Regions from separate parts of the Homo sapiens genome. Here region 1 is linked to region 2. Evidence: fine-mapped expression QTL. A gene starts in region 2. The other region holds a variant in brackets. All regions are shown on one strand. Distances are from middle to middle. Region 1 overlaps PLPP4 (phospholipid phosphatase 4). Region 2 holds the start of PLPP4 (phospholipid phosphatase 4).

The links.
Region 1: its variant is fine-mapped to the expression of PLPP4 in tibial nerve (GTEx, PIP 0.97).

What each region holds. Positions count from the first base shown.
Region 1 is chr10:120,568,176-120,573,175 of GRCh38, reverse strand. The region is part of intron 5 of PLPP4 (phospholipid phosphatase 4); the gene reads right to left. Among named protein-coding and RNA genes, the nearest start is that of LINC01561, 27 kb to the left of the region's middle. The variant CT/T (reference allele first, on the strand shown) is at 1,953.
Region 2 is chr10:120,454,434-120,459,854 of GRCh38, reverse strand. It overlaps PLPP4 (phospholipid phosphatase 4), which reads right to left and starts at 2,628. Exons shown (of 7, transcript NM_001030059.3): 1 at 2,494-2,628. The coding sequence starts at 2,549.

The DNA.
Region 1 (5,000 bases), 110 kb before region 2:
TCCTCACAGTGTGTAAAATGCTTGTTTTCTTTGAGAAGAGAGTAGCAAGTTCTATGGCTAGAGTCAGAAAACATGTCTTGGACAGCCTTCCTGGTTTTTTGTTGTTGTTTTTTCTCCTCCCCGTTGAACTTGAACCTGAGCCTTGATGATTTAGAGTCCTAGGATTTCAGAGTTAGGTCTGATGAATAACATCAGAGCCGTGCCAATAGATATTAAGTATTCTGCTTAAAGTAAAAATATGTGAGAAGAAACTGCATGGCCCAGCCCTGCTCTAGATACTGTGGTGGGAGGTTATTAAGTGGTTTACATGATGTTCCAAAGTGGCCCTATCTGGCCACCAACGTAGCAAGCACAACGACTTCTTAAATTCTATCCTCATCCCCTTTGCTCTGTTCCTTCTATTCATTTACATTCTTCCTTGAGGTATTCCAGTGGGAGAGGAGGCTGGAGAGTTGGATCCCATTGGTATTGATCCCATCCTGAGCTCCTTCAGGAGGAATAATGGACTTTATTCAAATCAGGTGGCTTTGCAAGTTTATCCACCTAATTACACTAAATGCAGGGAAACACAAAAAAAACTGCCCTGGGGCTTTGTATGGTTTTGGATGAAAGTCTCCAAGATCTGAATCAGGGGAGAGGCAGCCTTGGGTGTTGCCAAACTGGCATCTCTTAGGGAAACAAACAAACAAACAAATCAATGAACATAGGGCAGCTGTTGAGCAGGAATTTTTATGTGTCCCCATAAAAAATGACTTGGAGACTTTAAGACATATAAGTCATCAGCCCAAGCAACCAATACTGCCTACAGCACCTCCGGGCACATCCAGGGCATGGAGAAGGGGAAGGGCTGTGGAAACCCTCCACTGTTGGGCAAATGGTTCGAGGTGAGATCCTCAGCATCCGCCTGATTTCTCTGTCTCAGGAACTTGTATTTGGCCAGCATTGGCACCCCAGGCTCTAACTCATTCTTTGAAGGGTAGGTAAAATGTATTCTCTCCCACACGGCGGGAGCCAGGACCACCACTGTGACCCCTCCAAAATGTTGAAGCCTCTGCCTCTTTGAAAAAGAGGATGAATTCCAAGTCATCTTTATAGGCAATGTGCAAGGGCCTAGATCCTGTGGGCACCCAGCAGCAGCCAGTCTTCCTGCCCACACGCTACTGGGCCTTTGAATATTTTTTTTAAACTTCACTGTGTGCCCTTACTTTCCTAAGTTACACAATGAGGCTCCAATTTCATGCTAAACCTTATGCTTGTCACTTTCTTACTGATATTTATACTGTTATTGAACTAACATAATATCCTTTGACAAAGGACTTTTGAGGCCATTCCCTCTGGCCCAAGGGCATGTCTGAGCTATGGGAAGCCTTGGTTCTCTGCACTCCTGTTTTTCCAGTAACTACCTGAGGAAGAATGAGACTCTACCAACCCATACTGAATTAGTATGATTTCATAATTTTTCTGACACTCTTCCTGGCAGCTAAGGGGTTTGGGATCAAGGTGCAATCTCTCCCATGAGCCATCTCCCACCCAACTCTGAAATCCTAGGACTCTAAATCATCAAGGCTCAGATTCAAGTTCAACTGGGAGGAAAAAACAACAACAACAAAAAACCAGGAAGGCTGTCCAAGACATGTTTTCTGACTCTAGCCATAGGACTTGCTACTCTCTTCTCAAAGAAAACAAGCATTTTACACACTGTGAGGAGGGGGAGGGTGCTAGCATGGAACAAGTTAAATGACCTGCATTCCAAGTGAGTGTCTGTCCCCCACCCTACCTCCATCCTCCCTTTAAGCACAGTCCTAGCTTTCTGCTTGATTAAGAACTAAAACTGAGACAAGAGCATTCAAAGACTTAGGGCATTAAACATTTTTAAACATGGGGATTATAAGACAGGACAAATGTGCTCATATCCTGCTAACATTACCAACAACAGAAATATAAGTAGAAAA[CT/T]CCTGAGCCAGTGGGATGAGAGGATATTCAGAGTCTACTTGTCCTGGACAAACTTGTTCATTTGCTCTCCAGAGTTGGAGACACACAGACCACACACACACACACACACACACACACACACACACACACGCCCCTTTACTACTGATGGGAAGGAAGTAAGCATAGTGACCTGTGGGAAGAGCATATGTCCCTCGCTTTCAAAGCCTTGTAGTAGGTTTTCTTTATTTGTAGCAGCTGATTGTTAATATTTATGTGTTGATCTGTCTGTGAGTAGGAAAGATGGTCTAAACTAGGAAGAAGACGAAAGATAATGACTTTTCACCCTGTTTCTGACACTTGGTGATGCTCACTGGCTGTTACGAATGAGGGTAGATAGGCAAAGCATTACAATAAAAGGAGCTGACATAGGCGGTAACACCAGGTCCATCCCATGAACAGGGCTATCTGCCTGCCTGGTGACACTGAAAAGGAATCACTAATTCTTCTCTCCAGCAACCCAGATGAGTTCAAAACTCTCCCTTTGTAAAGAAAGGTCTAGTCATTGCACTAGCTTAGGTGCAATGTTATAGTTTAACTTCATCCCCAGTTGACTCTTAAACCAAGCGGAAAATCTTTGGACCCTACTGATTACAAGAAACACAAAACTGGCACCAAAAAAGAAAACTCTTAAAAAACAAATGAGATAAGAATCAGGAAGACAGGTCCTGCTTTTTATGTTGTATTTTTTTACTTTTGCTAATTATATTTTTCCACACAAGCTGATAATTTCTGGCACTGAACACACAATTGTGCTCTGATGAGTCAATCTATACAAACTTTCCATTTTGGGATGTTCAGAGAGTTGGTATGATCTTCTCTGAGGGAGAAAGGCAACGTTGGGTAGTTTAATAAACCTTAGTGTGGAAGGGTGTTTTGCAGAGGATATAAGTGCATCTCCAGAAGACCATTTGAAAAAAAGGATGTGGGAAACAAGCCTGCCTGGTCAATGCCTGCCCACCCTCATCAGCAGGAGGAAACCATGCCAAGCAGAGCAGGCAGAGGAGCATTCCATCAGAAGGACAGCCAGGTGATCAGAGGTTGAGTACCTCCCATGGGCCAGGCACTGTGCTGGAAGCTTTTCATTAGGTTGCCTCATTTCATCCCCAGAACAACACAATGATGTAGTCATTAGGCCATTCTATGAATGAGAAATGGAGGCTCAGAAAGTACAAATCATTTATATAGGTGTGATGCAGCTCTTTAGAAACTATGTGTTCTCTTTAAATAGAGCAAAAATCACAGATGTTCTTAGCATTATTGCAGTTAGAGCAATGCTAACTGCCTGTTTGTTTTCACACCCCCAATTAGGGACATGCCCATCAGGGTCACTGTTGAAGCTCTAGGACCGAACACACTGCCTGACAATAGGAGGCACCCGATATGTAATGCCCAAATGAAAATATAAATGGTAGAGACCATGTATTCATTTTACAAATATACCTGGACCCTATTAAGGATTCTGGCAAGAGGCCAAGGTCCTTGGGGACAGAAAGACATGAAAGGTCATGTCCTTTATCCCCTGTTTCTAGGCAGGGTGATACCTGAGCTACCTGAGCCATGTGAGATTTTCATCTCATGATGGAAAGGGTTGCACAGTCTTGTTTGAAAATGAGCAATGGGGAAAAGGAAAAGGAACTCCAAAACTCCTAATTAGTCTGAAAGCAAATGTCAGAGGCAGGAAATGCAAACAGAAAAAAGCAGACTATAAACTCCTTTTCTTACCTCATGTTGCATTTTCAAAGAAGATTTTGTTCTGAGAAAAAGAATCAACTCAGGCTCAACGCACAAGAAGTGCAGAGGAAGAACAGTGGTGGGAAGAAAAATGATAGCGGGAGGAAGGTGGCTGTCCTTTTGTCAACTGGCTGGAGGCACTGATCCTGGGAATGGGCAGATACAAGGAGGGAAAGTAGCAGCAGAGGAGGATTAAGAATTTTTTTTTTTTTTTGAGATGGAGTCTCACTCTTTACCCCAGGCTGCAGTGCAGTGGTGTGATCTCAGCTCACTACAACCTCCGCCTCCCGGATTCAAGTGATTCTCCTGCCTCAGCCTCCTGAGTAGCTGGGATTGCAGGTGCCCATCACCACGCCCAGCTAGTTTTTGTATTTTTGGCAGAGTTGGGGTTTCACCATGTTGGCTAGGCTGGTCTTGAACTCCTGACCTCAAGTGATCCACCCACCTTGGCCTCCCAAAGTGCTAGGATTACAGTCGTGAGCCACCGCACCTGGTTGGGGATTAAGGATTTTTGAATGACAGAAGGTGCTTTGGCTCCACTGTCCACCCCACACTCCTTGATGAAAAATGCTTATGAAAACTCATAAATGTTACTCCTTGCACTGGAGAAAACTACTGACAGTCACAAGGATGGGAAGTGGTTTTGCATATCTGAGCATCTTAATCTACAGAAGGTCTAAATCCCCAGGATAACTTTTCCTTTGATTATATGCCACAATGATCTGAAACATAAATATAAAAATAAGCCATCAAAAGAAAGAAATTGCCTTTTTCCATAATGACATTAGAGGAGCTGATATGAGCATGAGCAGGTTTGAAATAAAGATGATATTTTAATGAGAAATGATTTTTTAGTTTACCTTCAAAGGACTTAACAGAGCATAAATTTGATGAAGATATTTGAATAGTAATGCACATTTAAGAAACCACCAACAAGGAGTAGTCATTGATTTGCCCAGTGTGCTCATCTGATCATCCTCTAATTGGGGTGCATGGACTTCAGGAGAAGCCCTTAGGTTGTAATGATTGTTACTGCCTTGCTCTCTTCTAAACGAGTAGCCTCAACTCCTCCTGCCTTTTACGAGATGTCATACAACCTGTCTCAGGGTTTGCTAGAGAAGAAGAACCCTTCTAACCTGCTGCTGGCAGCCTTGCATGAGGGTCTCAGCCAGCACAGGAAGGGAATATAAATGGCCTTTGCATTAAGAAGATCTGTTACCCCTGAAATGTTTGGCTTAAATGCTGACCAATAGGGACAGTCTGTGATGGGTGCTGGC
Region 2 (5,421 bases):
ATGGGCTACGGGTAACAGGATCCCTGCTCTCATGCAGAGCAAATGTAGTCAGAGAACAGGCACATCTACAGGTGATGTTTCTCCGGGGGCATAAGTTTGCAAAGAAGCAAGATACCCCCTCTCCCCGCAGATAATTCTTTCATCCTGAGCAATAGGGTAGAAATACCAAGCAAAACTAGCTGCTGAGCTACACTGGCTGAAGCAGGGAAATCGGATTCAGCCTGCCCAGGGGCACTTTCTAAACCCCTGTGCTGCTAAGACCACCATCTTCGTGAGCAGAGGTAGGTACAACCCAATATTGCCATCATTTCCAGTACTGGCAAAAGGAAGAATTAAACTTCCCCCAAAAGTCAGCCTCTGTCAAGGTGCCAGACGCTTATCTGAGAAAACAAAGGGTCATCTGTTTCTGCATGCTCCCAGCCGTCCTCCCAGAAGTCGGTACATGCCTGATACTAACAGCATCTGAACATCCAAGATCTGCCCCCTAGGGAGGCTCGCATCAATACCAAAGCTGGTTTTTGCAGGTAAAAGAGCCACAAGTTGGACACACTGTTAACAACTTGATAAGAAACCTGGGAGTCATCCAAAAATGCTATCAATGTCCATGTGTGACAACAGATCCCCTATTAAGTAACACAAGAGGGAACTTCAGAGAACAGAACATAAACTGCCTGTCCAGCTTTTACATGACACCCTTAGAAAAAGCAAGACGCGCATAAGCAATAATTACCAAGTTTTCAAATTTACTGCATAGACCATTGTATATCTGTAAACATCTCATAAATATTTGGGGGGGATATTGGAAGGGACACCTGAAAACTATAAATATTTTTACATATTGTTGGACCCTTTTTTATCTGAGCACCCCCAGCAGCAGTCAAACCAGATAGTGAGATAGTGTAAGAGCCTATCTCACTTTATCTCAGCATTCTTCCTACATTCACCCAACAAATGTTAAATTCTACTGTGCACTGAAAACTAGTTTATCATTTCTATCACATAATAATTTAATGAGGTTTTAGCCCATCTGCCAATTAGAAACTGTCCCCATCTGATCACACAGCAATCATTAGTTTTAACGTACATTCCAAAGGTAGAAAATAGAGTAGGAGAAGGGAAGAGTGTTTTGTTTTTCCAAATGCATCAAAATCCAACTGAAGTTCTCGTTCCTTCTTCCCAGTGAATAACACCAGTGTTCGGGCAGAAGGCGGGAGAGGGGGGCTTGCTTGCATCTGGGGGAGCTCATGGCCTTTTCTGATGGTGTGAATAAATACTCTGGATGAATTTAATCCCTGCTAAAGAAAAACATGCAAGAAAGGGCATTTCTTTCCATGTGTATCCCCTGGGCTGCCCAGAACAGAAGTCATCTTTGACACAGCACACCTGCCATGGATGACTCCAGATTGAGGCAGAAATTCAAAGAGGGCCTCCTGTTTGGCTCGGGAGGGCTTTTCCAGAAACGAAAACAAAAACAAACAAATAAATAAATGCATGGCAAATCCAAAAAGTTCATGTAACTTTAATACTTAGAATGTGGCAGAAAACATCCATGGGCAGAGAGGGGGAGAGAATTTGGCTCACTGATGGAGGGACCAGTGCAGGTGTGGGTGCCTAGGTGACAGCAGCTCACGGGAGGCTGCGGGGTGGCTCTGAGCTGGTGTTCTGGGCTCAGGTCTGAAAGAGAGATGTGACAGCTCCCTGCAGCTTGGGCCCTGGAAGTCAATGAGCGGTGGGTCCCTGGGCGCACGGAGGAGGCTCAGGCATCTCTGAAAGAACCTGCGCCACCACCCCTTCTTCTTTTCGGGATCGCTGTTCTCAGTGCCAGCCGCTCAAAGCCACCCTGGGCATTTCACGGCTACCCCTGGAGGGCCTCCGCCCCCAAAGCGGACATCGACCGGGCACAGAGCTCCAGGGTGTGTGTATCCCACCCCGGCCTGCAGCCCCTTGACTTCTCAAGCCTCCACAGCAACAGTTTCTCAGTAGGAGAAGCGCCGCAAACGCCCGCTGGGAAAACGCTCGCCAGGACCGCGGGCGCTAAAGCCAGGGACACGGAAGGAGTCTGGCCCTGGGCACAGCGGGGAGGAATCGGAGACGGGGCCAGGGGTAAAGACTTCCAACGTGGGCCTCAAAGATCACACAGAAGGAGAAACTTCCCGAGGGCACGGGCCAGGGTGCGCGTCCCTGTTTAGAGGTGCAGCCCTGGATCCCCCGGGCAGGTGGTGCGGGGCTGGCGACAGGCGCGGGCCCGGTGAGACCCGGGAGCAGGTCTCAGCCTCGGCGCGCGGTGGTCGCTCCGCGCCTAGGGTCCCAGGAAGGAGAGAGGAAGGGTCTCTCTTGGTCCCGTAGGACACGTTGCGGGCACTTGGCGGGGAAGGGACCTCGAACCCAGGCCCCAGTGGGAAGCGGCTGCGCAAACTAAGTTAGGGCACAGAGAGGCTTGGTCGGTTGTTCCCCCGCGTCAGTGCGCCCTGCCCGCGGTGCGCCACTACTTACACGAAGACTCCGAAGAGCAGGGCTCGCACCCCGATCTCAATGGCCAGCTCCCGCATGGTGCGGCCGGAGCAGCTCCCGCGGCGTCAGCTGGTGCTCTCCGCGGCTCCCGCAGCTCGGCCGGCGCCGGCTCGCCAGACCCTGGGAGGCGAGGGAGGCGCGCTCCAGGCCGCGGGCGGGGGCGGAGGCGGGCGCCGGGCGGGGGCAGGCGCCGGGGAGGGCTCAGCCTAAACCTCGCGCCTCGGGCTCCGGGGCTCCGGGAAGCCGCGCCGGCCGCTGGCGATACTGCGGACCCCGCCTCCTAGTGCGGAGCCGGGGCCGCCTCAGGGACTCCCGGATCCCTCTCCCCAGGAGCCGCCTCCGCCTCCTGGGCCCGCGCCGGGCACCCGCGGACCGGGGAGGGGAAGCCCGGGGAAGCCCCACCGCCGCCGCCGCCTCCCTGCGCGCTCCCCGCCTCCCCCGCCAGTGGGCGGCCCCTGGGCTCCGCGCCAGGGCAGCGCGCTCGCTGGGGCTCTGCCCGCGGCCCCTCTGCAGCTCCTGGTCCTGCCTCCGACTCCCGCTGTCCGGGCTCTCGCTCCCTGGCACACGCACGCACGTGGGCATGTAGTGGACGATCGCTCTGGGGATTCTCCAGGGCTCAGGGCAGCCCTGGCCAACCTTGCTCCCGTGTTCGGCCCTCCCTACACCGTTCGAACCTGAAATTCTTTCTTTTTTCTAGGAAGTTCCCCAGAGATCACTCGCGGGCTTCGCTTTGCTCTCAGGAGATGCCAGCCAGGGTCCAGGGCTCCGGCACAGAGAGAGGGCAAAGGCAAGCCTGGCTCCCCGCCATGCCACCAGCGCCAGGTGGCCCCTGGGGACCGAATCCTCTCTCCCCCACCACCTGTCCTCCGCCCCCAGCAGCTTGGGGCTGCTGAACTGTGGAATATGAAAAAGCTCCTGCCACCGTCCCTGGCCTGGCCGGTGTGTGGGAAGTCAGGGTCGCTCGTCGCTGACACAGCATTCAACCAGCCGTCAGCCAGGCAGCAGGTAGAACCCAGAGCCTCATCCTCAGGTTAAGAGCCAAAAGCCCAACCCTCGCAGCCTAGGGGTCACGACCTCCAGCTGGAGCCCAGCAGGAGCTTGGATTTGCTTTTCCCAAACCGGTCAGAATTTTATTTACTTTTCTTAGAATTTTGACTTCTTGGCTTCACTAATTTAAACCAAGCAGACATTTAAAATGCAAAACACACAGTGATTATAACCATTAGGTTGTTCCTGGGGAGCCCAGGCCTCTCTTGGATTTTAGGAGAGACCCAGCCAAAATTGTGTGAGCAGAGGACACGGATTAGAAGGTGGTTCCTGGGACTAAGGAGCTATGGCTCAGTCCTGGATAAAAGGGGGAGCAGGTAGAAAGAACTTAGGAGGAAGCCCTTGGCATCAGCAAAGGGCAAACAGACCCTACCTCCAAAGGAAACACGTGCAGATCAGAGATACCTGAGCCCAGATATCTCAGGGTCTAGAGAGAGAGAGGCAGAGGGAGTAGGAACAACCCAGGCTCTGTGTGGGAGGGACTCCAGCCCTGAGGCACCACAGGCAGGAGCTGTATCTGCATTCCTCATCACTCTATGCCCAGTGCCCGGCACACTGTGGATACCTGGTTGGTACTTAGTAAATGAATAAATATTTATTCATACATATATATATATATATATGGCTATATATATGATATATTCATTCATATATATTATATATGGCTATATATATGATATATATATACACGTATATATCATCAGGCACATGGGGTGTCAGGTGCAGGTAAGGTAGGAAGGTCTTGGAGGGAGGAGGTATGCTTCTGTCTCCTCTGTATCTTGGGCCCAGCAACTACCTTGGACATAACAACTCCCACGGATTGGCAAAGTGCTGTAGGAGAGCCCATAGGCAGCCTAGTGAACACTGATGATCTCGGTCTGAGATTGTCAGGTGGCCATATTCCAGCAGGGCATTCTGACAATAGCCCCTGACATTGGGGCACCACTTACCTATAAGCATCTGCTGAGTTTGAGTACAGCCTGTGCAAAGTTGTGTGCTGGGTGAGACGATTCATAATCTGTCTCTGCCTTCAAGAAGATGGGGAGCTGATAGACCACAAGGAGACATCAGGGAAGTATGCAAAGCAGTATTAATAAGTCACAAACACATGCTTCAGAAATCTGGATCGCTCAGAGGTCAGAAGTTGGAACCACATCATCAGTCTGAGATAGCCTGAGGACACAGCCTCACGGAAAGGAGCTGGCTTTTGGACCAGGCGCGATGGCTCATGTCTGTAATCCCAGCACTTTGGGAGCCCGAGGCAGGAGGATCATGAGGTCAAGAGATCGACACCATCCTGGCCAACAGGGTGAAACCCCATCTCTACTCAAGATACAAAAATTAGCTGGGCATGGTGGCGCATGCCTGTAGTCCTGGCTACTCAGGAGGATGAGGCAGGAGAATCGCTTGAACCCGGGAGGTGGAGGTTGCAGTGAGCCCGAGATCACGCCACTGCACTCCAGCCTGGGCGACAAAGTGAGACTCCATCTGAAAAAAAAAGAAAAAAAAGAAAAGGAAAAAAAAATGAGCTGGCTTTTGTAAGGCAAAGAAAGAAAAAAATAAGGGGGAGAAATTCTTGGTAGGGGCAAGAAAGTAGGTGCAAGGAGCAGAAGGTGGAAGTGGTTTTGGAGGGCAAAAGGAGTTACCCTGTCTGACAGAGCAGAGAAACCACCCGAGGTTAGGTTGGTGGAGGAGACGTAGTCGTGACAATCCTGCCCACCAGGGTCTGTTACCAGGGTCACAGAGAGAATATTCAGTTTATCACTTCGTATTTGTATAGAGATACCCAGAGAGGGAGTCAGAAGGGGCATGTAACTTCACTTCATGGTCATTAAGAGACTCTGAAACACATAGATCGAAAGA